Homo sapiens: one gene and its partners. The protein of the gene in region 2 purifies or fractionates together with the protein of the main gene of each other region. This does not show direct contact. Each region holds a gene or a part of one and is shown on either strand. Other genes may lie near its edges. The genes, in order: APOOL, AFG3L2, ZZZ3 and SPTLC1.

What was found.
Region 1: the proteins of AFG3L2 (region 2) and APOOL purify together in Homo sapiens (affinity purification with mass spectrometry; one large-scale study listed by BioGRID and IntAct). This does not show direct contact.
Region 3: the proteins of AFG3L2 (region 2) and ZZZ3 purify together in Homo sapiens (affinity purification with mass spectrometry; one large-scale study listed by BioGRID and IntAct). This does not show direct contact.
Region 4: the proteins of AFG3L2 (region 2) and SPTLC1 purify together in Homo sapiens (affinity purification with mass spectrometry, with the first as the bait; one large-scale study listed by BioGRID). This does not show direct contact.

The regions. Positions count from the first base shown.
Region 1 is NC_000023.11:85,005,424-85,013,532, forward strand, and holds part of APOOL (MICOS complex subunit MIC27 precursor), read left to right. Parts: intron 1-8,109. UniProt on the Homo sapiens protein: Component of the MICOS complex, a large protein complex of the mitochondrial inner membrane that plays crucial roles in the maintenance of crista junctions, inner membrane architecture, and formation of contact sites to the outer membrane.
Region 2 is NC_000018.10:12,368,470-12,376,578, reverse strand, and holds part of AFG3L2 (mitochondrial inner membrane m-AAA protease component AFG3L2), read left to right. Parts: intron 1-4,887; coding exon 4,888-4,987; intron 4,988-5,652; coding exon 5,653-5,730; intron 5,731-8,109. UniProt on the Homo sapiens protein: Catalytic component of the m-AAA protease, a protease that plays a key role in proteostasis of inner mitochondrial membrane proteins, and which is essential for axonal and neuron development.
Region 3 is NC_000001.11:77,628,144-77,636,252, forward strand, and holds part of ZZZ3 (ZZ-type zinc finger-containing protein 3), read right to left. Parts: intron 5,263-8,109; 5' UTR 5,212-5,262; coding exon 3,707-5,211; exon of another isoform or gene 3,692-3,706; intron 1-3,691.
Region 4 is NC_000009.12:92,041,315-92,049,423, reverse strand, and holds part of SPTLC1 (serine palmitoyltransferase 1), read left to right. Parts: intron 1-1,715; coding exon 1,716-1,811; intron 1,812-2,155; coding exon 2,156-2,252; intron 2,253-3,370; coding exon 3,371-3,425; intron 3,426-8,109. UniProt on the Homo sapiens protein: Component of the serine palmitoyltransferase multisubunit enzyme (SPT) that catalyzes the initial and rate-limiting step in sphingolipid biosynthesis by condensing L-serine and activated acyl-CoA (most commonly palmitoyl-CoA) to form long-chain bases.

The DNA of each region.
Region 1 (8,109 bases), on a different chromosome or scaffold from region 2:
ACTGGGATTACAGGCGTGAGCCACCACGCCCGGTCCTCGCCAGTCTATTTTAATAACTCTTGTTTGTGCTCCCAGAGGACTCTGGGCACACTCTTAACCAAGCATTTATTCCACTGCACATATAGACTACTTACTTGTCTGTTCTAGCTACCTAAACTATAAGCTCCTTGAAGACAGTAATTATATTAACCTTTGTATCCGTAGTACCTAGCACAGGTCTGATGTATATTAGGTAGTCAACATGTTCTACATGAATAAAGTGCCAGGCAATGAGGACAGAAGAGATTAAGTGGTGGAGATATAACACATATAACACAAATGACTGTGATTCAGAGTAAGGGGAGTTTCTTACCTGAAGAGAAGTACAAAGTGCTCTGACGCTCAAAAGGAGAGAGCTCACACTTGGTTTGAAGAGAGTAAAAAGAGGCTTCATGGAGAAGGTGCAGAGACAGAAGGAATGGTCAGTGGCAAAAAGCAAACCAGAATAGTGTGTTTTCATTGAGAAGAAGAGAGTTGAACAGTCCTTTGATTTCACCATTAATAAGTTGCTGCTGTTATCATTTATTAAGTGCTTACTCCAGGCCAGGCACTATGCTAAAACACGTTACATGTGTTAATTCACTAATTCTCAAGACAACTTTATGTGGTGGGTATTATTACCATTTTACACATGAAAATTAAGGTTTAGAGAAGTCAGATTATTCAAAACCATGCTAATAAGAGCTGAAGTGAGCTAAAGAGATAAATAGAGTGGTAGAGGAACAACCAAGATTGTATGGGGTTAAGAAAAGAATAAGGGATGGAGAACTGGCATTCATTTAGCACCCACTTTGGCCAGATGATTTACATATATTATTTTAGTTTAATCCTCTTGATGACCCTAAGAAATGGGTAATATATCCATTTTACAGATGGAAAAACGGAGGCTTAGAAAAACTGCTTGCTCCAGGTCATACAACCACTAAGTGGAAGAACTAGGTTCAAACAGTATATTTATCTCCAAAGTCTTTCCACTCCTCCTTGCTTCCTCTGGAAAGGAGTTATACATTACTCTTTAGAGAAGTTTGGTGGTGAAAAGAAGGAACAAAATCTTGGAATGAGGGTAGCAAATTCCAGAAAAGGTGTCTTTTAATTAAAAAAAAAAAAAACTAAAAACAAAACAGGAGACAGAAGACTTGAGCTACTTTGGAGACAAGGGAAAATGTACCAGGAGGTATCTAGAGGGAAAGATAATAGTATTTACAGCTATTGTGTTATTGAATATTGACTACGTGCTAGGAATTTTGCTAAGCACTTTATGTGGATTCTCTCATTTATGTTTCACATTGGCCCTATGAGTAGGAATTTATATTAATCACTTTTTACAGGTAGGGAAACAGAAGCTTAAAAAGGTCAAGTAACTCCAAGGTCACACAGGAGTAAAGTGGTAGAGCTGGATCTGAAATCACATGGTATGAGTCCTGAACCTGGACTCTTAACCATACTTTGTAAGAAAGTGGTAAAATCAAGAGAACAAGTGGAGGGATTAACCTTGCAAAGAGGAGACACACTTTGCTTCAAAGGCCAGAGTTGGTCGAGATAGAAGGTGAAGATACCAAGTGATTTTGAAGAACGGAGGAGGTAGAGGAGGGAGCTCACATTGGAGGTCTGTATCTTCTGGGTGGAAGGTCATCTGCTGAGAGGAAAATATGCCTTTAGGAGTTTAAGAATGGGATAGGCTTGGAAAAGGTGCTTTAGGAAATTCAGTAAAGTATCAGTAGACATTGAATAAAATATTAATAATTGCTGAGAAGTGAGGGCCTGGCTAATGTTGGCTCTAGTAGTGACTTTCTCCAGCAGTGCTCACAGCATAGGAGGGGAAGAGGAGACAGTGGGGTTGCTCCAATGCTGAGTGTTGTCAAAGTGAGAATGATAGAAGATCTAGGGAATTTATCCAAATAGTCATCCACTGTGGATAAGGAGACAAAGAAGAAGATTGAAGTGATGGACTAGGGTACTAGAAGATTTATGGCCATAGTGAGAAAGAAGAACTAGTTCAAAAAGAGTAGGAGAGTTGAAAGAGCATTCTATTTTAATGAGGGAAATTTCAAGCATTTAGGATCTTGAAGGTGAAACGATTTCTAATAATTGCAAAGTAGGGTAACTGTGTTAGAAATGGCTAAGATTTGTGGAGATCATGGTGCTTGAGAAGCAAGGACTGTGCTGATCTCTCGGGTCTTCTGGAATCGGGGAATTCCTGGGGGTCTGGCCTTCAATTAAGTGGATTGGGAGGAATGTATAATAGTAGTGTCAAATAAAAGCCAAGTTTCATTTAATGCCAGAGGTTGAGAGTGAGTTTGAAGACAATTTGGGTATTGGCAGATAATTTGTTTTTAATGCATACTTAAAATCAAAATTTGTCTATGATTTATTGAGGACTTACTGTGTATCAGGTACTGCGCTAAGCTGTTGATACTCATTATTTCATTTAATTCTCACTAAAAGTCTTCTAAGGTAGGTAACTTTACCTGTAAGAACTGAAATAGATCAGTAAGGAAATCGAAACTGTAATGATAGGAGGTTGCACTCAGAGAAAAACTTGCTGAATTTATGATTTTAGCTATTAAGACGTTCTAGGGAATGGTAAATTCAAGATGTCCCCAGGGAATAGGTAGCTATAAGACCCTCTGGGTTTATGTATTTTTTTTTCTTTTTTTCCCCAGCTTTATTGAGGTATAACTGATAAATAAAATGGTTTGATTTTAAGGTGTGCAGTGTGATGATTTGATATACATATATTTTGTGGAATGATTACCAGAATCAAATTAGTTTATATGTATCACTTCACCATGCTGTGTATTATATCCCTTGAACTTACCTGTCATTGAAAGTTTGTGCCCTTTGGCCAACCTCCCAACCTCTCGCCTTTCCTTTACCTTTGCCTGTGGGAACCAGCATTCTATTCTCTAGTTCAGTGAGTTCAACTTCTCAAAATTCCACGTACAAATAAAATCAGGCAGTTTGTCTTTCTCTGTCTGACTTACTTCACTCAGCATAATACCCTTGAGGGTTATCCATGTTGTTGTAAATGACAGGATTTCTTTCTTTTTTTTATGGTTGAATGATAACCCGTTGTGTGTGTGTGTGTGTGTGTGTGTGTGTGTGTGTGTGTATACCACAGTTTCTTCATCCGTTGATCTGTTGGCAGACACTTCGATTAGACACTTAGGTTGTTTTCATGTTTTGGCTGTTGTGAATAATACTGCAGTGAATATGGGAGTGCAGATATCTTTGCAATTGCTGATTTCATTTGCTTTGGTTGTACACCTACTTTGGCTATTCAGAGTCTTTTGTGATTCCATACAAATTTTGCAATTGTTTATTTTTTCTATGTCTGTGAAAAATGCCACTAGAATTGAATCTGTGGATTGCTTTGGGTAGTATGGATATTTTAACAACATTAATTCTTCCAATTCATGAACATAGGATATCTTGCCATTCATTTGTATCTTCAATTTTTTCCATTATGGTTTGATAGTTTTCAATATACAGCTCTTTGACCTCTTGGGTTAAGTTTATTCTTAAGTGTTTTATTCTTTCTGATGCTATTTTAAATGGGATTGCTTTCTTTCTTTCTTTTTTGGGTAGATCATCTTCGATAGTGTATAGAAATGTAACTGCTTTTTTGTATGTTGACTTTGTATGCTGCAGTTCCCTGAGTTTATTTATTAGTTCTAACAGTTTTTTGGTGGCGTATTTAAGATCTTCTATGTATAATATCATGTAATCTGGGAGAAGAGACAATTTTACTTCTTCTTTTCCAATTTGTATGTCTTTCATTTCTTTCTCTTGCCTGATTGCTTTGACTAGAACTTCCAGTGCTATGTTAAATAAAAGTGGCAAGAGACTTGTTCCTGATCTTAGAGGAAAAGCTTTTAGCTTTTCACCATTGGGTATGATATTAGTTGTGGCCTTATCATATATGGCTTTTATTATGTTGAGGTACATATCTTGGATAATTAATTTGTTGAGAGTTTTTATCACAAAAGGATGTTGAATTTTGCCAAATGCTTTTTCCACATTCATTGAAATGATCATGTTGTTTTTGTCTTTCATTCTATTAATGTGGTGTATCATGTTTATTGATTTGGATATGTTGAACCATCCTTGCATCTCTGGGATAAAACTTACTGATCATGGTGAATGAGCCTTTTACTTTTATTTATTTATTTACTTTTTTTTTCAACTTCTATTTTAGGTTCAGGTGTACATGTGAAGATTTGTTACACAGGTAAACTCGTATCATGGGCATTTGTTGTGCAGATTATTTCATCACCCAGCTGTTAAGCTCATTACCCAGTAGTTGTCTTTTCTGCTCCTCTCCTTGCTCCCACCCATTACCCTCAGGTGTCTGTGGTTTCCTTCTTTGTGTTTGTAAGTTCTCATCATTTAAGTTCTCATCATTTAGCTCCCACTTATAAGTAAGAACATGTGGTATTTGGTTTTCTGTTCCTGCGTTTACTTGCTAAGGATAATAGCCTACAGCTCCATCCATGTTCATGCAAAAGACATGATCTCATTTCTTTTTATGGCTGCATAGTATTCCATGGTGTATATGTACCAATTTTTTTAATCCAATCTGTTATTGGTGAACATTTGGGTTGATTCCATATCTTTGCTATTGTGAATAGTGCTGTCAAGCTACCCTTCTAAGTGGCTGTATCATTTTGCATTCCTACTAGCAATGAATGAGACTTCCTGTTTCTCCATGTTCTCCCCAGCATTTACCGTCGTCAATGTTTCAGATTTTCACCCTGCTAGTAGGTATACAGTGGTATATCATTGTTGTTTTAATTTGTAATTCTCCAATGATATGCTGTTAAGCATCTTTTCATACGCTTATTTGTCATCTGTGTATCTTTGATGAAGTATCTGTTCAGATATTTTGCCCATTTAAAAAAAATTTTAATAGATTTTCAGGAACAGGTGGTTTTAGGTTAAATGGGTGAGTTCTTTAGTGGTGATTTCTGAGATTTTGGTGCACCTGTCACCTGAGCAGTTTACACTGTCTCCAGTGTGCAGTATTTTGTCCCTTACCCCCTCCCAGTATTCCCAAGTCCCCAAAGTGCATTATCTTAATTTTATGCCTTTGCATCCTGATAGCTTAGCCCCCACTTATTAGTGAAAACATGATAGTTGGTTTTCAATACCTGAGTTACTTCACTTGGAATAATGTTCTCCAACTTCATCTGGGTTGCTGCAAATGCCATTATTTTCTTCCTTTTTATGTCTGAGTACTATTCCATGTTGTATACATACCACATTTTCTTGATCCACTCATTGGTTGATGGGCATTTGGGTTGGTTACATATTTTCACAATTGTAAATTGTGCTGCTGTAAACATGCATGTGCAAGTGACTTTTTTATATAATGACTTTTTTTCTTTGGGTAAATACCCAGTAGTGGGGTTGCTGGATCAAATAGTAGTTCTACTTTTAGTTCTTTAATGAATCTCCATACTGTTTTCCATAGTGGTTGTACTAGCTTACATTCTCACCAGCAGTGTAAAAGTGTTCCCTTTTCACCACATCCACACCAACATCTATTATTTTTTTATTTTTAATTATGGCCATTCTTGCAGGAGTGAGATGGTATCGTATTGTGGTTTTAATTTCCATTTCCCAGATAATTAGTGATGTTAAGCATTTTTTCATATGTTTGTTGGACATTTGCATATTTTGAGAATTGTCTATTCATGACCTTCACCTACTTTTTGATGCAAATTATTTGTTCTTTTCTTGATTTGTTTGAGTTCCTTGTAGATACTGGATATTAGTCCTTTGTCAGATGCATAGTTTATGAGTATTTTCTCCCACTCTGTTGGTTGTCTGTTTTCTCTGCTATTTTGTTTGCTGTGTAGAAACTTTTTAGTTTAATTAAGTCCCATCTATTTATTTTTGTTTTTGTTGAATTTGCTTTTGGGTTCTTGGTCATGAACTACTCTTTGCCTAAGCCAATGTCTAGAAGAGTTTTTCTGATGTTATCTTCTGGAATTTTTATGGTTTCAGGTCTTAGATTTAAGTCTTTGATCCATGTTGAGTTGATTTTTGTATAAGGTGAGAGATAAGGATCCAGTTTAATTCTTCTACATGTGGCTTGCCAGTTATTCCAACATGATTTGTTGAACAGGGTGTGTGTGCTTTTCCCACTCTGTTTTTATTTGCTTTGCCTAAGATCAATTGGCTGTAAGTATTTGGCTTTATTTCTTGGTTCTCTACTGTGTTCCATTGGTCTACGTGCCTACTTTTATACCAGTACCATGTTTTGGTAACTGTAGCCTAGTTTGTAGTATAGTTTGAAGTTGGGTAATACGATGCCTTCAGATTTGTTCTTTTTGCTTAGTATTACTTCAGCTATGTGGGCTCTTTTTTGGTTCCATATGAATTTAAGGATTGTTTTCTTCTAGTTCTGTGGAGAATGATGATGATATTTTGATGTGAATTGTATTGAATCCGTAGATCACTTTTGGCAGTATGGTCATTTTCACAATATTGATTGTACCCATCCATGAGCATGGGATATGATTCCATTTGTTTGTGTCATCTATAATTTCTTTCAGTAGTGTTTTATAGTTTTCTTGTAGAGATCTTCCACCTCCTGAAGTTTTTTTGTTTGTTTATTTTTTTGTTTCTGTTTTGCAGCTGTCGTAAAAGGGATTGAATTATTGATTTGATTCTCAGCTTGATCGTTGTTGGTGTATAGCAGTCCTACTGATTTGTGTACATTGATTTTGTAACCTGAGACTTTACTGAATCATTTGTTAGATCTAGGAGCTTTTTGGATGAGTTCTTAGACTTTTCTAGGTATACTATCATATCATTGGTGAACAGCAGTGGTTTGACTTCCTCTTTTCTGATTTGGGTGCCCTTTATTTCTTTCTCTTGTCTGATTTCTTTGGCTAGGACTTCCAGTATCATGTTGAATAGAAGTGGTGACAGTGGTTATCCTTGTGTTGTTTCAGGTCTCATTGGAATGCTTTCAGTTTTTCCCCATTTAGTATGGTATTGGCTGTGGGTTTGTCATAAATGGCTTTTATTACCTTGAGATCTGTCCCTTCTATGCCAGTTTTGCAGAAGGTTTTTATCATGAAGGGAGCCAGGAGTTTTTCAAATGCTTTTTCTGCTTCTGTTGAGGTGATCTTATGATCTTATGATTTTTAGTTTTAATTCCGTTTATGTGATGTATCACGTTTATTGACCTGTGTATGTTAAACCATCCCTGCCTCCCTGGTATGAAACCCACTTGCTCATCTTTTTGATATGCTGTTTGGATTCAGTTAGCTAGTATTTTGTTGAGGATTTTTGCATCTGTGTTCATCAGGGATATTGGTCTGTAGTTTTCTTTTTTTTGTATGTCCTTTCCTGGTTTTGGTATTTGGGTAATACTGGCTTCATAGAATGATCTAGGGAGGACTCCCTCTTTCTTTATTTTTTGTAATAGTTTCAGTAGGATTGGTACCAATTCTTCTTTGAGTGTCTGATACAGCTTAGCTGTGAATCCATCTGGTCCTGGAATCTGTTTTTGTTGGCAATTTTTAAATTACTGTTTCGATTTCGCTATTGGTCTGTTCAGTTTCTGTTTCTTCCTTATTTAATCTAGGAGGATTGTGTATTTCTGGGAATGTATCCATCTATGCTAGGTTTTCTAGTTTGTGTGCACAAAGGTGTTCTTAGTAGCCTTCAATGATCTTTTGCATTTCTATGGTATCAGTTGTAATATCTCCCTTTTCATTTCTACGTGAGCTGATTTGGATATTCTCTCTTCTTTAATCTCTCTAATGGTCAATCAGTTTTCTTAATCGTTTCAAATAAACAGATCCTTGTTTTATTTATCTCTTGTATTTTTTTGTTTCAATTTTATTTGGTCCTGCTCTGATTTTGTTATTTCTTTTCTTCTAGCTTTAGGTTTAGTTTGACCTTGTTTCTCCAGTTCCTAGAGGTGTGATATTTGATTGTCAATATTTGGGCTCTTTCACACTTCTTGATGTAGGCATTTAATACCATGAACTTTCCTCTTAGCACTACTTTTGCTGTATCCCAGAGGTTTTGATAAGTTGTGTTACTGTTATT
Region 2 (8,109 bases):
AGTCGGGCTGCCTAACCTCTCCGAGTCTCCGTGTTCCCGTCTGTTGAATGGGGCCATTGCGGGCATTCCAGGACTGGCAGTATTAGCTATTATTATTAAGAATGTCACCTTTTCATAGCAGGGACTCTGTGTTCGTTGCATATCAGGGCCTGCTCTCAGCAGGAGGCTCTTTCTCTGTTGGTAGCCATCCCTCTAGATACACACACGGGACCTGATACGTGTTTCTGACATAATGATAGAGTGTTGACAGAACCATGGCCGTGATCAGTCTCAATGAAAGGTTCACGTGTCGAATAGTCGCTCTCACTGTTTAAGTGACACGGTTCCTCAGCCTTGCACTGGTGTACGGGTGGTGGTTGAGGTCCCCGGGTCGGCCACGGGAACCTGGCTTGGCCTCCTGCTATCCCAGCGCCCTTGTAGTCAGCTCAACGTCTTCACTGTAAGGGGAGATAGGCTAGTGCCGGGGCTCACGCCTGCGATCCCAGCACTTAGGGAGGCCGAGGCGGGAGAATCGCTTGACTCCAGGAGTTGGAAACCAGCTTGGGTAGGGTAGCAGACCCTCCGATCTACGATTTTTATTTTTATTTTTATTTTTTAAGAGACGGGGTTTTGCTTCTTCGCCCAGGCCGGAGTGCAGCGGCGCAAACACAGCTCACTGCAGCCCCAAACTCAAGCGATCCTCCCGCCTCAGCCTCCGGAGTATCTGGGACTACAGCACCGTGGTTGATTTTTAAAAAGTTTCTGGAGAGGCCAGGCGCGGTAGCTCACGGCTGTAATCCCAGCAGGCGGGTGGATCACGAGGTCAGAAAATCGAGATCATCCTGGCTAACACGGTGAAACCCCATCTCTACTAAAAATACAAAAAATTAGCCGGGCGTGGTGGCGGGCGCCTGTAGTCCCAGCTGCTCGGGAGACTGAGGCAGGGGAATGGCGTGAACCTGGGCGGTGGAGCTGGCAGTGAGCCAAGAGCGGGCCACTGCACTCTAGCCTGGGCGACAGAGCGAGACTCCGTCCCAAAAGATAGGGTTCACCATCTTGCCCAGTTGCCCAGGCTGGCCTGGAACTCCAGGACCCAGGCGATCCTCCCGCCTCCTCCTCTCAAAGTGTTGGAATTACAGACCTGAGCCACAGCTCCTGGCCTCTACAAATTGTTTTTTTTTTTTTTTTCTTACCTGGGCTCAGTGACTTATGACTATAGTCCCAGCAACTCGGGGGGCCAAGGCGGGTTGCTTGGCGCGGGAGGTTGAGGCTCCAGTGAGTTTTGATTGCATTGCTGTACTCCAGCGTGGGTGACGGACTCTGTCTCCTAAAAAAAAAAAGAGCGGGGGTGGGGAGGGGGAATAATAGTGCCTGCATTCATGATTTTTACTCCTTGAGGCTCCCTTGCCAGTCTTAAATCAATTTCTTCGCCATGGTCACGCCACGCTGCCGTGTGGTAGGTCCTTTTTCGGTTTCCTGTATCCATTTCCCTGTTTTACCAAGCTCTGATCCCTTTTCTTTTCTTTTCTTTTTTTTTTTTTTTTGAGACAGGGTCTCGCTCTGTCGCCCAGACTGGAGTGCAGTGGTGTGATTTTGGGTCACTGCAACCTTCGCCTCCAGGGTTCAAGCAATTCTCCTGCCTCAGCCTCCCGAGTAGCTGGGATTACAGGCGCCCGCCACTACGCCTGGCTAAATTTTGTATTTTTAGTAGAGATGGTGTTTCACCTTGTTGGCCAGGCTGGTCTCAAACTCCTGGCCTCAAGCAATCCATTTGGCCTCCCAAAGTGCTAGTATTACAGACGTGAGCCACCTTGCCCGGCCTGACTGCTTTTCTTTTGCTGCTCATGAATATTGGATTCAGACATACAGTTCCAGGTGGGGATCTGCATTGTGAGTTTGCAGTTTTATGTCAGAAGTGTTACCCAAAGGCTTTCCTTTTGAGTGACACTATTGTCCCTGTATCACTCAGATGCTGATGTATAAGGAAGTCCTCTGTGCTGACAGCTGTAGCTGATTGATTTGCGGAGGGTGTGGGGGTTCGCGGTCCTGATACATACTCTTTGGTACTCTCTGAAGATTTGCCTAGTGACACCTGGGCATTACTGTGCTGTGAGGGAGTCTGATAGGACAGGTTTTCCTTTATGTTCCTGCTACCCTTAAAGATCAGAGACAGAAGTACTGCTTTCACGGTGAGGAAGAGATTCTGATGTGTTGAGAGATGAGTTCTCAGGTGTGATGCCCAGAGGAATAAGACTGATGATAAAGCAACTGAAAAGTGCTCCTGTTGTCAAACATAAAGGCTAATTCTCCAAAATGCGGTGCTCTCAACTTAAATTTTGTGAATTAGTATCTCTTACATTATTCTTTGAATGCTAGACATGCAGATCTTGGATTACATATGCAGAGGAGAAGAAGTTTCATTGATGATTTCTTCATAGAACACAACCTCAGTGTTAAATTCAGTCACGGATTATTGCTAGGGATATTCCATGTCAACACAATTTGAAAATAGAGCCTAAAAAGGGCTTTTCTGTCAATATTTATGGAGCGCATACAGTGCCCTGTTCTGTACTAAACTTTATGGTGATATAAAGACTTGCTTTATATGGTACTATGGTTTGAGTTTGGCCTCACCAAAACTCATGTTGAAATTTGTTCCCCATCGTGGTGGTATTGAGAGGTGGGGCCCAGTGGGAGGTGTTTGGGCCATGGGGGTGGAGCTCTCATGAGTGTCTTGGTGCCATTCTAGAGGTAGTGAGTTCTGTGAGCTGTATTGGGACTGGCTTAATTTCAGAGACCTTAGGTTGTTATAAAGTAGAAGTTCCTCCCTCATGGTATGTGGCTGCTTTGCCATTGACCTTCTCCCACCGTGTTTTGATGTAGCACCTTCTCCTGCCATAATTTGACCTAGCATGTGACCCTCACCATAAGCCCAGCACCCTGTTTCTCATACTTCCCCTCTTGCAGAACTGTGAGCTAAATAAACCTTTCTTTGTAAATTACCCAGCTTCAGGCACTCTGTTATAGCGGAACAGAAAGGACTAAGACTAAGACGTGGCAATATAAAGACCCCTTCATATTACCTCTGCACCACTCCTGTTCCCTGTACTCAGAGCTTTTGTTTGGTTACATTGTTATGCCATAGTGTAACTGATTTGTCCCATGATTTTCTTCCCTATGTTTCTGTGCTTCTTAGGGGTGGGAACTGGTTCTGATTCCCCTTCGGACACCCCACTGCTTGACAGCACCTGGCCTGGAGTTGTTGACTTGTCTAGCTTGAATAACATTTCATTTTAATCTACACCCTTAATGGATTTGGCACTGGAAAAAAACTCTTATGTTGCATTCTTATCTGTTATCAGTGGTTATTTCATAGGCCAAGTGTTCCTGTGGTTGGGCAGGGTGTAACACAACATAAGCTCCAAAGTCTCCCAGGCCAGTATTGCACTCAGACAAAAACAGTGTTGGTGTTCCTGTCCTGTTTTGCTGTGTGGAATTCTGTATTTATTTGAAGTTAAATCATCTCATTCTGTTTTATTTGTTTTTTATTGACATTTTAATTTACAAACCATTGTTCATCTTAAATGTACAGTTCATTGGTTTTTAACATATTCATAAAGTTATGCAACCATCATCACTGTCTCCAATTCCAGAACATTTTCAGCACTCCAGAAAGAAGCCCTGCGACCATTAGTAATCATTTCGCATTTCTCTGTAATCATTCCCCCAACTCTAGGCAACTACTAATGTGTCTATCTCTCTATGGATTTGCCTATTCTAGACATTTCGTATAAATGGAATCATAATATGTGACCTTTTGTGTCTGCCTTCTTTCACTTAATATGATGTTTTCAGAGTTCATCCACGTGTCAGTACTTCATTCCTTTGTTTGAGTGACTGGTATTCTCTTGTATGGGTATACCACATTTTATTTATCTGTTCATCATCAGGTGGTGAACGTTTGGCTTGTTCCTACTTTTTGACTGTTATGAATAAGGCTTCTGTGAACATTTGTGTGCATATTTTTCGTGGACATGTGTTTTCAGCTTCCTTGGGTAGGGATGGCATTGCTGGGTCATATGGTGACCCATAGAGTCATGTGGTACCATTTTGGAGCTCTGTCAAACTGTTTTCCAGAGTGGCTACACCATTTTACATTCTCACCAGCACAGTGTACAGGGCTCCAGTTTCTCACATCCTCACCCATACTTGTCTGTCTTTTTGATTATAGTGGATGTGAGGTGGTTTTATTTGGTTTTGTAATTTTTATAACTATTATTTTATTTTTATTTTTTTGAGACGGAGTCTCACTCCATCGCCCAGGCTGGAGTGCAGTGGCGTGATCTCGGCTCACTGCAACTTCTGCTGCCTGGGTTCAAGCAGTACTCCTGCCTCAGCCTCCCGAGTAGCTAGGATTACAGGCACCTGCCACTGTGCCTGGCTAATTTTTGTATTTTTAGTAGAGACGGGGTTTCACCATCTTGGCCAGGCTGGTCTTGAACTCCTGACCTCGTGATGCACCCACCTCGGCCTCCCAATGTACTGGGATTACAGGTGTGAGCCACTGCGCCTGGCCAGGGTTTGTCTTTTGAATGCTACAAATTAAACAAACATCATCAAAGTGAATGTGTTGTCACATAATTATAATTGGATTGCAATTCTACATTATGTCTGATTTTGAAATATTCTTGTTTTCTGGATAATAATGTGTGTCTCCTGGTTCTTTTGCTGGAATCAGTGGCCTAGTGCTAGGTAATCCTAGTCCTCACTAAGGGAGTCATTCTGTGTTACTTCATAACCACCTGTGGAAGAGAGAGACCTTTCATCTACTTTATGACCAGGAAATGAAGCTCTTTTAAGTTTTTTATCTTGATATAACTATGGTTTTATTTTTATGTCTTGTTGCAGCTTTACCGATTTGTTACAACTCAAGCAAGGGCCAGCAGAAATTCTCTTTTGACAGATATAATTGCTGCTTATCAAAGATTCTGTTCTCGACCCCCAAAAGGTAAATGCTTAGGTGTGGCTGTAGTGTTCTACATTCTTAGGTTGGGTCTTTTGTCTCCTTCTGTAACCCATTCCCCTGCCTCCAACTTATGTCTGATTACAGCGATGAAGATATGTCATCTTCAAATGTAACACATTTGTAGATAATGAAATTGATATGCAAAAAGGAGGCTTTTTCCTTTAACACTTCTGGGTTGTGAACTATATTATTTAGACTTTGATGTACTTGTACACAAGAAATGTTATGCTTTTAGCTTGTGCTTTTTTTTTTTTTTTTGGAGACTGAGTTTGGCTCTTGTCGCCCAGGTTGGAGTGCACTAGTGCGATCTTGGCGTACTGCAACCTCCGCCTTCTGGGTTCAAGCGATTCTCCTGCCTCAGCCTCCCGAGTAGCTGGGATTACAGGCACCTGCCACCACACCCAGCCAATTTTTTGTACTTTTAGTAGAGTCGGAGTTTCGCCATGTTGGGCAGGCTGGTCTCGAACTCCTGACCTCAGGTGATCTGCCCACCTCAGCCTCCCAAAGTGCTGGGATTACAGGCATGAGCCATTGCGCCTGGCCAGCTTGTGCTTTTCAGTGATGCATCAGCTGCTTTGAAAACAAAATGAACACAAACCTGATGAATTTTAGTTTGAAGATAAGTATTTTTTTTCTTTTTCTAACAGGATTTGAAAAATACTTTCCTAATGGAAAAAATGGAAAAAAAGCTAGTGAACCTAAAGAAGTTATGGGAGAGAAAAAAGGTACCTTTTGACAATATTATATTTGAATTTTGTGTTTTCCCCTCATGTATAATGGTGGTAGTTTCCACTGAACAAAGAAAAGAGTTATCAGGCCGGGCACAGTGTCTCACGCCTGTAATCCCAGCCTTTTGGGAGGCCTAGGCGGGTGGATCACTTGAGCCCAGGAGGTTGAGACCAGCCTGGGCAATGTGGTGAAACTCTGTCCCTACTAAAAATACAAAAAATTAGTTAGACATGGTGGTGCACACCTGTAGTCCCAGCTACCTGGGAGGCTGAGGTGGGAGAATCACCTGAGCCCAGCAGGGAGCTGTGATTGTGCCACTGCACTCCAGCCTGGGCAACAGAGAGACCCTGTCTCAAAAAAAAAAGAAAAAAAAAAAAAAAAGAAAGTTATAGTAAGTCAGTTGTGAAGCTGTAGGTTGCAAGTACATATAAAATTCTAGAGACCTTATGTTACATTTCACCTTAATTTTCTGTTGATATTTTTCTGTCATTTTGCAAATTGAAGTAATTTAAGGCTACCTTAGAGGTATTGTCTGGTCAAACTAAGCATATTTGGTAGATATCTGGCACATAATTTAAAACATTGAGAAAAATCGTAGAAATCTAATACATGCAATTTATTTGATACATATTGTGTTTAGGGCAGTGTTTTAAAAATTGCTCCTCAGAGCATTACCTCACCTTAGGGATTCGGAGAGACTTTTTTAGAGCACGGTGGCTGGGGGACTGAGTGGGCCTCCTGTGCCCATTTTGACTGACTTCCTTGCTTTTTTTTTTTTTTTTTTTTTTTTGAGACAGAGTCTAGCTCTGTCGTCCAGGCTGGAGTGCAGTGGCATGATCTTGGCTCACTGCAAGCTCCGCCTCTTGGGTTCGCACCATTCTCCTGCCTCAGCCTCCTGAGTAGCTGGGACTAAAGGCGCACGCCTGGCTAATTTTTTTTTTTTTGTATTTTTAGTAGAGACGGGGTTTCGCTGTGTTAGCCAGGATGGTCTCCATCTCCTGACCTTGTGATCCGCCTGCCTCGGCCTCCCAAAGTGCTGGGATTACAGGCGTGAGCCACCATGCCCGGCCCATCCTTGCTTTTTTAGGGAAATGTAAAGAAAACTGTAATTCAGTTTCTTTTTTTTTTTTTTTGAGGAGGGGTCTCTGTCGCCCAGGCTGGAGTGCAGTGGCACGATCTCACTGCAACCTCTGCCTCTTGGGTTCAGGTGATTCTCCTGCCTCAGCCTCCACAGTAGCTGGGATTATAGGCATGCGCCACCATGCCTAGCTAATTTTTAAGAGATGAGGTTTCACCATGTTGGCCAAGCTGGTCTTGAACTCCTGACCTCATGTGATCCACCCGCCTCTGCCTCCCAAAGTGCTAGGATTACAGGCGTGACCACTGCACCTGGCCTCGAGGAGTCCACGTTTTTAAATGTACTTGTCATCTAGTTGGACAGACAAATATATGCCCAAAGAATGCAAAGGAGTAAGAGCCAGGGGACATGGGGAGGGAGAAGCACTGGTGTGGGCTGGTGACAGCCCCGGGGCTCTAGATTGGAGCAGTACCTACAGTTCTCCCAGTGCATGCTAGGTGGTCTTTGAGTCTTGGTGTGGGGGCCGAGTAATGATAACCCATGCAAGCTTTTGGGTTGCTTTTGTGTGGACATTCCTTTCTCCCTGAGTGGTTTGGAGTGTTGCACAGCTTTAGTGGTGTGCTTACTGCGTGTTTTTTAGTCCTGGGCCTCATTCTGGGGGCTGAGGCTTGTGCATATCATACCTGTCTCAGACTCCACTCGAGACAGAGGTGCAGAAGCCCCTCGTATGCAGCATAGCGGAGTGAATGTGTCATGAAGCCACATGTTACATAGCCACTGAGGATGACCGGGTGCCTGTAGCCTCCCATCCTGCTACACTAGAGGGGTTGCTTCATGGTCACTGAAGACATTAGAAGTGTATTCGGTCCGGGTGCGGTGGCTCAACGCCTGTAATCCCAGCACTTTGGGAGGCCGAAACGGGTGCATCAGCTGAGGTCAGGAGTTGAAGACCAGCCTGGCCAACATGATGAAACCCTATCTCTACTAAAAATACAAAAATTAGCCGGGCATGGTGGCGTGCTCCTGTAATCCCAACTACTTGGGAGGCTGAGGCATGAGAATCGCTTGAACCTGGAAGGCAGAGGTTGCAGTGAGCTGAGATCACGCCATTGTACTCCAGCCTGGGAGGCAGAGGTTGCAGTGAGCTGAGATCACGCCATTGTACTCCACTCTGGGAGACAGAGTGAAACTCCGTCTAAAACAACAACAAGGACTGATTTACAGTTTTCCTTACATACATTTCCCTACAAAGCAAAGATGCCAGCTGAATACCAACTGTGGGTGTGTTTTTTTAGCC
Region 3 (8,109 bases), on a different chromosome or scaffold from region 2:
AACAGAAAGGGCAATCACAGTTAAGTAAATAATCTCATTCAGTGAGGCTATTTAAGCCTAAAAAGAAATCATTAGGTACTGTATTATCTAACACTTTAACAGATTCTATCAACCCTGAAGATCAAAGAGCCTTCAGATAAAGAATATTTCTTTTGATCCTCCACCCCTAATCTTTCAGAAGGCATGTCTAATAAAATAATCCACAGATGGAATCTTGCCAGAGAAAAAGATATTCTCTGGTCCCTTTCTCACAGTGGGGTTCTCCATTTGGAAAAATAAATATATAAAAGCACACTGTGGATTTATGCGCTAGAGAAGAGGGATGGCATCTAGAGAGGCATCAAGCTAGTACCCAGAACATCCACAGATTTGTTTCCCTGGTCTAATGCCTAATTTACTATAAATCACATCTAAGACTAGGATTCTACACAATACTTTCGCAAACATTTACAAGTGATCGGATGACCTTATATGGGATATCTTTGCACACAAGACAGATAAACTGTAAGCTGAACACTAGGATAGAAGGCTGTTGATCACTGTTAGGTTAGAGGAAAAGTTTCAACTAGAATAACACAGAGTTATGTCCTCCTGGCTCTAGACAAAGAATTATGCCATGCTCAGTATTTTCTATTAACAACTTACTTTTAAAACTGGCTATCAAGAAGTATTCATTCCCTACTGGTAGAGATATTCATATTTAGGCTGGGCAATGCTCAACCTCGGTTTCAAAAAGCAATTACCTGGAGAACGTTTCTAGCACAGGGAGAATAAGGAAGAGAAGTAACATTTGACAAGGTATGTACATATGTGTGTACAGGAGGAGAATAAACCATCTCCTTCAAGTGCCTTTTTTTAAAACCCAAGTGCTTTTTAACATCATTTTCAAACTGCCAGAAATTTACTTGAGACTTGAAAGCACCAGACAGGTGTCATGATGCTACTTTTAGCGATGGCAACTTGGATTAAAAAGAGCCAACATTATATCCAACCAACTCTTGGCTCTAGACAATGAAGGTATGGGGGAGGAAAGAGACTTTACTGAAAGAGATTAGATCTGACATGATCAAACACCCTCTCCCAATTTTCCTTAAATTAGCTCTGAGATGCTAATCATGATACTCCATCTCATTTCTGATTTGCTTCCTTTGAAAAAAAAGAAAAAAGAGAAAAGTCTCAAAAGTGCGATCCTAGCCAGGTTAGGTGGTTCATGCCTGTAATCCCAGCACTTTGGGAGGCCAAGGCGGGCAGATCGCTCGAACCCAGGAGTTCAAGATCAGCCTGGACAACATGGCGAACCCCTGTCTCAATTAAAATTACAAAAAATTAGACAGGTGTGATGGCGTACACCTGTAGTCCCAGCAGCAACTTGGGAGGCTGAGGTGGGAGGATAACCTAAGCCTGGGAGGTAGGTCAAAGCTGCAGTGAGCCACGACTGTGCCACTGCACTCCAGCCCGGGTGGCAGAGTGAGACTCTGTCTCCAAAACAAAAAACAAACAAACAAAAAAAGTGCTATCCTTCAAAAGATCTGGAGCAAGGCAAAAAGGCAAGAATCAGTAATTTTTTCCCCAATGTCACCCAATGAGGCATTAATTTGAAAACACTGTTCTAACAAAGCAACTAGCATCCAAATTCCAAAGGAGTCTCTATATCTTAAGGAACACATGAAAAATAAACATATAAAAGCACACTATATAAAATGTATAAAAGCACCAATTAAGCTGTATTGTTCTCATCCTCAAAGGGTTATGAATGTGGAATATCAATGTTATGACTGTATCTTTAGGTAACTGTTTTATGTGAACATCATCCTTCAGAATTATTATCGGGCAATCTCTTACAAAAAGTAATACTGTAGTGAATTACTAGAAAAAAAATTTCCACAATCAATAACGAGTCAAGACTAAAACAATAAAAAGCAAAGAACAGAACTAACATATATCATTTTATAAAAATTCACATTTCTTTAGTTTTTGGTATTTTCCTAAGACATACGCTCTCCTTCCCTGCACTGCAGATAAACAGGTCTACTTTTAAAAACTGATACTAGGCCAGGTGCAGTGGCTCATGCCTATACTCAATACTCTGGGAGGCTGAGGTGGGAGGATCAATCGAGCCCAGGAGATTAAGACGAGCCTGGGCACCATGGTGAAAACCTGCCTCTACAAAATACAAAAAAATATTAGCCAGGAGTGGTGGCATGTGCCTGTAGTCCCAGCTACTTGGGAGGCTGAGATGGGAGGATTGCTTGAGCCCAGGGAAGTCAAGGTTGCAGTGAGCCATGATTGCACCTGTGTACTCAAGCCTGGGCAACAAGTGCGATGCTGTCTCAAAAAACGAAAAACAAAAACAAACAAACAAACAAAAAAACTGACAGTATATATGAACAGCAGAACTCAACTTATTTCTAATACAAAAAAAACTTCATTTATGAGTTGTTTTGCTATCTAAAACTGGACTTCAAATATTCCAAATACTCGAGACTCCTAACATTTTCACAAAATTGTAAAATGCTCAGATGACATGAACTATCAAATACAATATTAAGATAGTATTTCAAAAGAAAGCAGAAGAAAACTTTTCAGAAGGGGCCTATGCTGAAAGACCACTGTATTACCATATACAAATCTACACTATCTACAATGCATGGCAAAAAAAATATTATGTCCCACAACCAGGATTTGATACTTTGATCTGACACATACCAGGGTCTGGCAATTGTCACAACAAAACCACTAGAAATGTTCCTCAAATCAAAGTATTTATGTACAGTCTATATAATCTGGTTGTGATATTAATTCAAAAGCCTACCCTGTAGCAATAAAGGTAATTAACTTATTACATAAGTCTGTCTTTTATTGTTGCTAATCATGATATTTATGATGAGCACTGTGTGTTCTAGTTCTTTTCAGGATTATCTAGACATAGTAAGCTCCAAATCTTTTGTGTTATGGCCCTGAATACTTTATAGGAAATCTAGGCAAGAAATATTGTGAAAAATTTGGATACAGAATTCTTTATTTACAACAGTGACTTAGCAAAGGTTGAGAGCTGATAATATTTTAAGATAGTCTTCCTTTATATTTAGTATCAGGAAAAGCTATGTCAAATGTTTTATGTAAACTATCCAGTAGACTAACCCTTGCTAATATGCTAATTACAATATACTGTCATAGTGTTAATAGTAATATCCACTTCTCTAAGTCAAAGTCAAAGATGATGCATAAAGCACATTTTTTAATAAAAAATTTTAATTGGGAATTAAATGTAAGTAAGATAAAAGTAGATGTCAAGCCTGCCAGACTTCACATATCTGGATGATGTCTAAGCACTCATTAATTGTCCTATGCTATCTAGAACTATAAATCAAAGCATACTGTGGTAACTCAATGTGTTTCCATTGTATAAATTAACTAAAAATGATATAAAACATATTAAAAAAACAAAAACACTACCAACCATGTCTTTTCTAATTGAGACATGAAATATCAGAACTGGAAAGACCATGTTGTCATAGAACACACGTGTAAAGTTGAGTTTAAGTCTTTTTTTGGAGTTTTTCTAAGAGTTGAGAAAATCATATTAAACCTAAAATTTTAGTGAAAACATTAATTTTGGCTGTAATAAAAACACTACGAATAGATACTGAAAAACTTGGGGAATAATAAACAAAGCAGAATTCATGGTTACCATATTTACACATACTCTTTGTTGTGTTTCAGTGCCACATGATCTGATTCAAAGTAATAAACATCAGGATCATCATCTTCCTCTTCTGTAATGTGCTGACTGGCACTCTCTTTGGCAGATGGCAAATGTCCAATATTGAGTCTTGCCTCTGAGGGTGGTTTACTTACTCCTTCACTTCCATTATTTTGAGAGTCACAACATATCCCTTTTTCATTTTGAGAAATTTCACCAGGATTTGTAGGAGATTGACTTACATTATCACTAACAGTTGCATTTGTTTCATTAGGACTAAGATTATTCTCCTCAAATTGTCCATTTTCTCTGTAAGGAGAACTGTTTTTAGTGGGACTACCTCTGGTAGGGGCTGCCCTTCGTGGTGAGGTTCTCAGAGTATAACGATGTTCTTGAGGTTCTGATAAAGACATCATTTGAGCTGAAACACAGTCTAGAACAGGAGATGGTTCAGGTTCTCCGGAGGCTGGCATACTCTCAAGACTTGTGTCCAGTTCGTTATTGGTGTTTTCTTTACACTGCTCTTTTGAGGCACTGCTATCTCCCACCACATCTACTTCCTCCTCAGAATCCCTTAAAGATGACTGAGTTTCAGAAAAGGGCCCTGTAGCTGGCTCAGTAGTCAGCTGATTAACATGTTCCACAGGCAAGCAGGCAGTTACTATTTTGTGGTCCTCCAACTTGACCTGCACTTGTGAATCTGTGCAAGGCACCTTATGGTCTATATAACTGTCCTCCTTCCTACTATCAAGGAACATTGAAGTTTGGGTATCCGTATCCCCATTTTCAGCTACTGATTTTTCCTGTAACACATAGGAACCAATGCTATTTTGTTTAGTGTTCCCATCAGGCTGACAGTCATCACAGTTTATAACAGCTGAATCACTGTCATCAACACCATTGACAGCCAAATAGCCTGTGATTTCTTCAACTACTGCAGAATTAAGTGGCCCTTCCTCACTGACATTCACCTTTTTAATTTCCCTTTTCTCACAATCATCCAGTATAAGACATCGACAAGCTCGTTTAGTCCCTTGAAAATCTGCATCATTGTCCACTACTGTACTCCTCTGTTCTACTGACTCCTTGTCTGATTTTATAGGAGAATCTTCTTCTGAACTGTTTGGTGCTTCAGATCTAAGACAACGCTTAATTCTTTTTAAAACTGGTGAAACAGGTTCTGTTTGCCTTCTCTCACAATTTTCTATAGCCTGCCTTTCTATGTTATCCTTTTCTGAAGAAGAAAGTCCTCTTTTCCTAGGGCTTACCCATGATTCTCGGGTACTCTGCTGTTTTAAATCAGTGGTTCTCCCATTATTATTTCCTTTCTGAATTGGCACAGGCTCTGGTCTCTTCTTTGGTGATCTTGATCGTACTTGAGAATTAGAAGAGATTTCTTCAGGATGCGCAATGCTACGATTCCTTAAAGTTCTACCACAAAAAGATTCATCCAAGCCGTTTAACCCCACTGTTGATCTTGTAACACGAGTAGATCGGGAAGCAGCCATACTATGGCAAGTCCCTACAATACGGTCATCATGATCCACTCATTGGGAAACCTTCAAAAATGTAAACAAAATAATGAGAAAAAGGTAATAGTTAATATACCCAGAACGAAAGTATAAAGCTATAACTTTTTAATCCAAGTATACTTGGACATTACAGTCTATAACTATCTATATAACTGCCAATATTAAATTATGTGATAAAAATTCTTTAACGTTTCCAATAATGATATAAATTATAGCTAACAAGCATACAGTACTTAATATGTTCCATGAGTCTTTCTATATGCCTTACATACATTAACTCACTTAAGTCTCACAACAACTCAGATAGGTGCTACTATCATCCCTACTTCACGAATGAGATTAAAGCACACTCTGAATATTCTATCCAAGGTCACAACTCTAGTAAGTAGCAAGGCAGGGCTCTAGAGACCATAACTGCCTCACTGTGTATCTGCCTCTCAGGCATAAAACACCCAGAAGAGATCTATCCTAAAGATGTGATTTCATTTTGGTCATTAAAATAATAATCTTCGGCCGGGCGCAGTGGCTCACACCTGTAATCTTAGCACTTTGGGAGGCTGAGGCGGGAGGATCATGAGGTCAGGAGTTCAAGACCAGCCTGACCAACATGGTGAAACGCTGTCTCTACTAAAAATACAAAAATTAGCCAGGTGTGGTGGCACACGCCTGTAATCCCAGATACTCAGGAGGCTGAGGCAGGAAAATTACTTGAACCCGGGAGGCAGAGTTTGCAGTGAGCCGAGATCATGCCACTGCACTCCAGCTTGGGCGACAGAGTGAGACTGTCTCAAAAAAATAAATAAATAAATAAATAAAATAAATAAAATAATAATCTTGAACTTATATAGCAGCTATCTTTCAAAAAACTATTCCAATCATTTCTCGTGTTCTTTCAAAATGTTCCCGGTATACAGAAAGGCAGGCTCTCCTCTTTTTAATTTACTTTTGCTAAAATGAGTTTCAGATCAAATCCCTTAATAATAATCTGGCATCCAAAAATTTTTTATTGCAGTATAATTTTTCATAACTAAATAGACAAAAATCACAATGCTAGCTTGCATTGGCTAAGAACAAAACAAAGCAAACCCAAGCCTTCCTAGTCTCTAGAAATAAAGCCATAAATTAGCAAGTGAAAGGGAGTGTTCCAAAGACCAGAAAAGAAAATGGGGAAGAAGCCTCTGAAGCAAATACTTACATTTAAGAAATCAAGACTACTCCTGTAATCCCACCCTTTCCTTCTTTGAACTCCTGTGTATAGCATATGCCAGTGCCAGTTTTAATGTGTGGTTTGGGAGATGAGCAGGTATTCTGGTGTGGATGCTTGAGGTTTATATGACAGAAATGTAAGGGATATAGAAAAATGCCTTGATTGATCCATTTGGGTAAACTAGTGATTTGGTGATATTTTCCAGAGGCTCTCCCATCAAGCAGAATAAAGGAGCTGTTAATATTTGAAGTCTCTATTCCCCGACTCCTCTTCTGTTTAGTTTTCACAAGGTACCCTGTCATTTTATTTCCTAACTTTGAATGAGATGCAGGATGATTAGTTAGAGAAAGAGGCCAGTGGTGGCAATAGTGCAAAGTTTCACAGTCCCTTCCTCCTGCCTTTGGTCATCAACAGTCTCCCTTCTCATGTAAACCTCCAAATGCCATTCTGACTCCTACCCCTAAAAATCAAACACAATTTCTCCTTGCTTCAACTAGAACTATCTAACAGTGGAAAGTTTGGAAGAATTATAGAAGACACAGCAACATGCTACCACATATAAAAAAGAAACACTACAGGAAATAATCTCCCTGTTCCTGCCTGCTGACAAGTGAATTAAGTGAGAAAGTACCCTGTAAAATATTTAAGTTGCCTGAGTTTAGTGTTGTCTCAAAGTATGGCATACTTTTAAATTTTTAATTAACAATTTTTTTAAATCTTATAAGAATCACAAAACTAGCCCTGGAATTAAAGCATGGTTATATGTTCTACAGAATTTCATAGCAACCAAGTGAACAATAAGTACAAGACACAAATCAGAACTTAGAAACACATTTCTTACAGTAGTAAACTTTCATTGTTTGGGGGATTCATTAAAAGAACAGCTGACATTTAATTATCGTTTGCTAATATATTATCATGAAGATTACAATCTGTTTCTTTCATGGGTAACAAACACTGAGTGTCCCATAATTTTCCACTTTTAATTGTAAAACATTTAAGTTAAACTTCAAATGATGTTTTAAAAGAACACAAACTGGCCAGGGGCAGTGGCTCATGCCTGTAATCCCGGTACTTTGGGAGGCCAAGGCAGACGGATTACTTGAGGTCAGGAGTTCGTGACCAGCCTGGCCAACATGGTGAAACCCCGTCTCTACTAAAAATACAAAAACTAGTAGGGCATGGTGGCACATGCCTGTAATCCCAGCTACTCGGGAGGCTGAGGCAGGAGAATCGCTTGAACCCAGGAGGCAAAGGTTGCAGTGAGCCGAGATCGCGCCACTGCACTCTAGCCTGGGCAACAGAGCGAGACTCTGTCTCAAAAAAAAATAAAAAGAAAAGAACACAAACTGAAATACATGAAAAGCAACTTACTTGTTTCATGTATCCAAATCTGGCACTCTAAAGGGTTAAGATTACTTATTTTTAAATATTAAATATGTATGTAAATGCACAAAAAAAGCATAAGGCTAAGTTAAATTTAATAACTAAAATGCCTACAAAATCTAATACATATTATCTTTAATGTAAATTCAACTATACTCATAATTTATGGTTCAAAAATAATACTGACAATAGAAATACTTTATAAACACACAAAAGAATCTGTTAGTCTTTACTTTTTAAAATGCAATCCCAATTAAGGGCATAAAAACCTCTTAAATTAT
Region 4 (8,109 bases), on a different chromosome or scaffold from region 2:
GTCATGTTTCCTTTTCTGAGGGAAATGGACCCAGACTGCCCGCAGTGCCTAGTGGGTTTTGCTCCTGGAGCCTCAGGGCAGAGGAAGTCAGCCAGTCTTGAACAGCTGTCTTACCAACCACCATGGGAAGAGTTACAGAAAGCTTTTTCTCCAAAACATGCGCATAAGAGCTGTGCAACCTGTGTTACAGAGTTGAACTATAAAACGTAAAATTGCCTTACATTATCGACATCCCGCTAACCATATAGTCCCAGAGAAAAATGTAAAGCAGAGTGAATATCCCGGGAGGTTGGATGGAAGCACCTCCTCCAAGGCAGACTGACATTCAGCAGTTACATGCACCGAGGAGGTAAATGGAATAAATGGAAAGATAAATGGAAGTGTAATTCAAGCAGATTTAGCAGTACACTACAGCCTTTTTTAAGGCATGAAAATTTTTATGGAGGAAAAAACTTGAACTTCACTGTTGTAGTTTTGTGAATGCTTCCAGCAGTTGTCACTTTGGGAAATACTGTGAGGAAATACTCACAAGCGCCTGAGAGTAGAGAGCAGAATGTACGGGCTTTATTTGGATCCTGATTCAAACAAATGCTGTTAAAAGAAAATTTGGTGAGACAATCAGAGATATCTGAACACTGAATATTTGAATATATTTAACATCAAATTTAAACTTAACATTTAAAAATTGTTAATGTCTTAAGTATGATACTAGTTTTGTGATTATGTTTTGAGAGAGTTTTTATCTTTTAGAAATACACAGTGCAATGTTTATAGATGAAACCCCATGAAGTCTGGGACTCACTACAAAGAAATGATGAGGGTGGTAGGGGATATAGGTGAAGCAAGGTTGTCCTTGAGTTGATAATGTTTGAATCTGGGTGATGGGGATTCTTTGTTCTGTTCTACTTTGTTCAGGCTTGAAATTTTTCATAATGAAAGGTTTAAACATGCTTTTTAAAAAGGGCAGGAGTGCAGAGTTTCTCAAAACTCTGCTGGATCTATGAAACACTAAGGAAAACACTAGCTGTGTTCTGACAATCCATTAACATGGCCATCAGTAAGTAATGATTGAATGCCTACTGTGTGCCCAGAATGGAACTTGGTGCTGAGGGCTGGACCCAAAGATGAGGACCGAAGGAGTTCTGAGTGGTCAGAAAGATGTAGGACTCAAAGCCCATTAGGTCATTTTAGAGCACATTAGGTTCTTCTGCTGTCCAGTTGGTCAAAGATTCCATCGCCATGACGTTTGGATAAATTGACTTATGAAATGCTGAGAGGCAAACTGAATACAAGAATAAAGTGCTCAAAACTTCGATAGACTTTTTATTTATCTCAGTGCATCCCATGAGGAAGGCCAGCTAGACCACTGTTTTAGCGAGGAAATAGTCTTATTTTGTACCTGTGACTACTTTTAATATCGAACAGCTTTGGGTTTTATTTTCTTATAATTTATTTGTCTTTGCTGTGAGTTAATTTGTCATGTATAATGAAATGGTAAAAATGTATAAAATGAGACAGTTTCAGATGGGCCATGAGACTACAGTTCATTCAGCGATAGATGTTATATGGTTTATTTTTTATTTTCATGTAGATAGGTAGTTTGAATCCAGATATTAACAGACAGTTTAATGCTGTTAAATTTTGTCTCTAGGCTTGAAGTTGGCCTTTTTTTTCTTTAAACTGTGGAATAACTGTCACTCCTCCTTTTCCGGCAGATTGATGATATTGATCTTATCAGTGCCAACATGGAGAATGCACTTGCTTCTATTGGAGGTTTCTGCTGTGGCAGGTCTTTTGTAATTGACCATCAGGTGGGTTCTTTTTAAAAACAGGAGCTAAAACTGAAACTAATTTCTCCATTGGTCACCTCAAAATATAATTTTGAAATACGAAATTTTACTTAGTTTATCACACAATTTTTATTTAAATGTCAATTTTTAAAGAATCACTCAAAATATTTCTATTTAGAAATGATCTCACATTTAACAAAAAGTCTTGTTGCTGTTACACGTATAATGTTTATTTATGGCTGGATCTTACCCCCCTCACCACATGTACACACTGTTCAGTAGTTGTTCTAGAGAACTGGTGCCTTTCAAATGTTTACCTAGAAAGGACAGAGAATGTGTATATGTCTTCATTTGTTTCTTCTCAGCGACTTTCCGGCCAGGGATACTGCTTTTCAGCTTCGTTACCTCCCCTGTTAGCTGCTGCAGCAATTGAGGCCCTCAACATCATGGAAGAGAATCCAGGTATAACCCTTTAAAAACCCAAGGAATCAAAGAGATTTCAGGTTACGTTAGTTGTGTTACTGATTTACTTACTGGAGAAATTATTTGCCAGACAAAACTGGTTTGCAGTTACATTATATGGCATTCATAGGAAGAATGGCAGTGAAGAAGCTATTCCTGCCCCAAGGACTTGGGGTCAGAGCTTTTCTCCTGTGCTTGGGGCCAGAGCCAGAGCCAAAGCAAGGCTAGCTCAGATAGTGGGTGGAGATGCTGGGAGGACGAGGGGCTCTCAGCCAGTTCTGGGCCTAAACGTTCCATTGGTGTAAATAAGCCAGTCTTTATTTGGTTAATAGTTTTTTGAGAAATCAGCTGAAGCATGCTGCTTTTTTATCTGTGCAATTTTATAAATATTGTGAGTTTTCACCTTTAGCCTTTGAATCATCAGTTGGTACTGAGGCCAAGCCGGGTTTACCAGCAAAGAACTTACTCAGTGGGAAAAATAAAAAGTCTACTAAGAATTTAAAATGTGGCCTTTGGCTATGACAGTGCCACCTTTGCAAAGCTTAAAACGGAAAGGGAGCAGCAGGCCCTACCCGGTACAGTATTTCTGAATCTTCATCACTGATACTAATTCAGAGAACCAGAAAATGTGTGTCTCTGTGCTCATTCATATGCTTGCTTCTCAGATGGCCTGGCACGCCTACCTTCTGATCAGATACTTTAGTTTTGGGATTTTCCTTGAATAAAAAAGGAAAATATCAAGAAAAGATTGTAAAAATTACTTTACTATAGTTGATTTTTTACCAAATTGTTTAGGATAAAGAAATAAGCAATAAATTTGTACCCTTTGATTCTTAGCCAGATTAGGATCTTGATGAGAACAAGAGGCATTGATTGTTCTTGAAAGCATCATTCCAGGTTTGTTGAAAGTGGGATACTGAGGTGAGAAGGGGCCAGTTAGCACGCACCAGAGACAAAGCTTGGGCCTTCAGGGGAGTATGGGTTCTTGGCTCTGTTAGTATGTAGAAGGATTTGTAGCATTTTAAATTGATGAACTTGATCTGGGTCTTCAAAAATATTTTTAGGTTAGTACTATCATAAGTTTCAAATAGACTCTCAAACGTATTTTTTTCATCTAGGTATTTTTGCAGTGTTGAAGGAAAAGTGCGGACAAATTCATAAAGCTTTACAAGGGTGAGTTTTATATATTTTCAACCAACATAAAGTTTATCTGCACCACACTTAACAACTAATGGAAAGTTTTAAATTTCTAGGCTTGGGTCAGTTTGACCAGATTGCAGCTAAGAAACCAAAAACTTAGTTCACTCACATTGGTTTATTTGTGTAAAACCAGATCATCTGTTTTAAAGAATCGTGACTTTGTTTTTCTGAAAATGAAACAAACTCATTAATAAAATATTACAGCAGTACAGAAGATAGAAAGATGAAAATAACAACCCAACATCTTACCACCAGAAATAACCAGGGTAAACACTGAAGCATCTCTCCATGTCTGCACACACAGGGATGCCATTATATATTATGTAATTAGATGACTGGGTTCATACCATCTGTGTTACTTTTTAATAAATTACTAAGTTTTAACACAAGAAAAAGAAACAAGTGAAATTTTATCAGTGTTTTTTTTTTTTTTTTTTTTTTTTTTTTACTACACAAGAGTCACTTTTTTTTTTTTTATTATACTTTAAGTTTTAGGGTACATATGCACATTGTGAGGTTAGTTACATATGTATACATGTGCCATGCTGGTGTGCTGCACCCACTAACTTGTCATCTAGAAGAGTCACTCTTTAAGATTCCTCTGTAGTTAAAAAAAAAAAAAAATGGAGGTTGGTGATATCTCCAGGCACATTTCTGGTCTTATATAAAGTGATTTCACATTGCCCGAGGTCTTTCTTTTTGCCTTTCCTAAGGTTAAACATGCTTTCTTGGTCATGAAAGTCCTATCTGTGTTCCGGATATGGAAACTGGAGACTTAACTGAAAGAAAAGGACAATTGATAAATGAGTACATCACAGCTGTTCCAGATAAAGAAGGGGCAGAGACATTAAAGTTCTGGGTGTGTCTGTGTGATAGTAACAGCAGTTCTTGCATGATTTATGGTAGAGAGATATATTTGTATTGGTTCCAGTTCCATTGGTTTGTGAAATATTAATATGCCAACACAGCCTAGCATATTGGAGTCACTGGAAATGCATCAGTGCTAGCCTTACATGCCTTTCACTCTATGGTGTTAACCTGCCTTTTTCTAAGTCTAATCTCCACTTACCCCAGCTGTATCACACTTTTTCTTTCCAAAATTCCTAATCCTCTGTCTTCACTCCCCTCACTTTTAGCTAACAGCCTGGCCTTATGCTGTCACTTGGGACTCTGTCATATTTCCTGACAAATCTACACACCTGTGGGTATCTGAACCAGTCTTCCCTCCTGTAGACCAGTAAATGTTGCTCCAACTACCACAGGCCCTTTTTTTAAGGACTGAGTGCCTTTGCTTGTCCCTGCTACTTTGTCATCAGCCTGTCCCCTTTCTTGTGTTATTTGATTAGCAGTCATGTCCACTTTAAATTCCTCTTGCCTGTCACCTGACGTTTCCCTCTGCAACTCCCCATGTCTTTGCTCCTCTCAGTAGCTATCATCTCCACGTCTTCACTTACACTGGCAGCTCTGAGACCTGGCTTCTGCTACTGCCCTTCGCCTGGACTGTTTTTGTGGAGGTCTCCACTGACTGCTGAATCCAGTGGACCATCTTCAGAGCTCATCTTCTTGATGTCCCCATAGTTTTCAGCACAGGTGACCACTCTTTCCTTCTTTGGACTCTGCTACACTGCACGCCTGGATTTCCTTTTACATCTTTGAATGGCTCCATCTCGGTCTCCTCTGAAGGCTTTCTTTCAACACCTTGCTCTTCAAGGCTTTGTCTGTGCTTCTCTTTTCTTCTCATTACCTTCTTGAAGAATTGCCTTCTCCCACACCTGGAGCTCCACATCGTTTCATGACACCTGTATAGAGACAGCTCCCAGCTTCGTATCACCACCCTGGACCACTGCAGCTGCAGGTCTCACACCCAGTTGCCTACTCAGTATCCACAGTTGGAAGACTCCATGGCACCTCACAGTAAACACACATTCATAAGGGTCGCAGGGGCAAACCGTGCTGGTATCTAGATGGTTACAGAGAACAGTAAACAAAATAGCAAAGAGGCCAATGTGACAGGAGGAAAGGAGTGGGAAATCTGGTGGAAGATGAGGGCTGGGTCATGGGCCATCCGCACACAGGGACTTGTGAGCCGTGATGAGGACATTGGCACACAGAGGAAGCCCTGGCATGGTTTTGAGCAAAAAAGTGAAACAGCCTATCTGATACCCTAGCAAAATTACTTTTGCATGGTGTGAAAAAATACATTGAACAGCAGTAAGAACAGAAGCAGGGAGACCAGTTAGGAGATTGACGCAGGTGAAAGGTGATAGTGACTCTGACCATGTTGGGAGCCATGACCTGCGAAGTGTCTGGATTCTGGGTATCTTCTGAAGGGAGAGCACACTGGATCTAGCAGAAGTTCATATGCAGGGTGAGTGAGAAAGAGAAGACTCCAGGTAGAGCTCAGGGGGTTTGGTCAGAGTAAATAGGTAGAGTTGCTAATGAGTGAGAGGGACAGAACTGTGGAGAAATACCTTCTGGGGAAGGTCAGCAGTGGTTATGTTAAGCCCAAAGTGCCCATCAGACATGGAGTGCAGAGCAGCAGCTGGATATACAAGTCTGAAGTGTGAGGGAGAGTACTGAGCTAGAGATAAATGTTTGAGTCTTGGGGTATGGATATTATATGAAGCATTTCAGTGTGAAGAGGTCAGAAACTAGCAAAGACTAGTCTGAGAAAGAGTGGCCAGTGAGGAAGAGGCAGGCTGGAAGAGCCTAGAGTCCTGGAAACCAGGGAAGAAATTGCTTATGTAGGAGGTCAGCCTGTGACATGCCGCTGCTGACAGGCCAGACCAGATAACAGAACACTGATCCTTTGACTTCGTTATGTAGAGGTATTATGACTTGGTGAGTAGTTTCAGGGGAGTGTGGGGTAAAATGCCTGCTTGAAGGAGGTTCCAGACAGGTGGACACGGCCTAGATGACTGTTTTGAGGAGTTTTTCTCTGAAGAGGGACTAAGAAACAAGATGGTGGCTGGAGAAAGAAATTGGTCAAGAGAAGAATATTTCAGTTTAAGATTACTGAGATCAATTTCTGAATAACATCTGGCTAAGTATAAAACATCCTTTCTCCTACTGGTTGACAGTACTGTATCATATACCAGGTTCCCATTTGTACCTAGATCTGTTTTTAAACTGTCTCTTCCATTCCATTGGTATATTTGCTCATTCCTCAGACTCTTTTGATTTTGTCTGTTTTTATCACTGTTTTGGAATACAGGTTTATCACTAGTGTCTGTTTTTATCACTGTTTTGGAATATGGGTTTCTCCAAAATTATTGCTAGAATCTTAATTGGAACTGCATTAAATTTTCTGATGAATGTGGAGGGAAATGTCATCCATGAACATGAGCTCTCTATTTAAATCTCCCTTTGTGTCCTTTAATGGAATTCCTATAAAGCCCTTGTACCTTTATGGAACCTTTAAAGGGAATTTTCAGACATCCTATAGATTTTGTTGCTGTTATGAATGGGGTTGTCTTTTCTGTTATATTTTCTACTTGATTATTGCTGATTCATAAGAATATTATTATTTTCTCTAAACTGACCTTATATCCAGGAGTCTTTCTAAACTCTTAGTATTTCCAGTAATTGTTTCATTGTGTTATGATGATGTGCATGGAAGTCCTGTTATCTGCAATAATGGTGTTCTCTCTTTCCTTCCTAATGCTTTTGCGTCTTAGTTCATTTTCTTATTTTATTGCTTTGGTCTGAGTCCCTAATTTGTATTGAACAGTGGCAATAATAGCAAACATTCCTTCCTTATTCCCAGTATAGAAGCACTTCTTCATTAAGTATAAAACATCATGCTATGGGTTTTTGGTGAGTAGCTTTTATTGAATTATTCCTAGTTTTGTTTTGTTTTGTGGTTTTTTTAAGAGACAGGATTGTGCTATGTTGCCCAGGCTGGAGTGCAGTGGCTATTCACAGATATAGTCAACACACTATAGCCTCAAACTCCTGGACTCAACCAATCCTCCTGCCTTCACCTTCCAACTAGTTGGGACTACAGGCATGTACCTCTGCACCTGGCTAAATGATTCCTAAATTTGAAGGCCTTTTTTTAAAATCATAAATAGACGTTGAACTTTATCCATTTTTTTTACATCTATTAAGGTAAATCATAAATTTGTCTTATGGCTGAATTACATTGAAATATTTTCTGATGTTAAACCATCCTTGCATTCTTGAGAAAACCGTTACTTCATTATAATATCTTTTTCTACACTGTTAGATTTATTTAGCTAATATTTTAATTTGACTTTTTATATCTGTTTATAATTTAAATGGATCTATAACCTTGTACCAACTTTACGTAACATAGGAGTCAGTGTTAGGGTAGCTTCGGTAGATGATTTGGCTATTTTCCACTCTTTCTGCTTCATGGAAGCACTGAGTAAAACAAGGCTTGATCGTTTCTTCAGAAGTTGAGAGTAGGTCTCCCACTTTACAGCCATCTAGGCTTGGGGCCTTTGGTTTGGGAATAGTTGTTGATTATCTCTCATATATCTATATTATTTTAACTTTTTATTTATGTAAATTTGGTTTTGTGTGTTTTCATCATAGTGTGTTTTCTTATTTTTATGCACTGTCTCATTGCACTGTGTTCTTACTCTTCTTCAGCTTCTTACATTTAGCTTTTGGTTTTATTTCGTATTTTCCA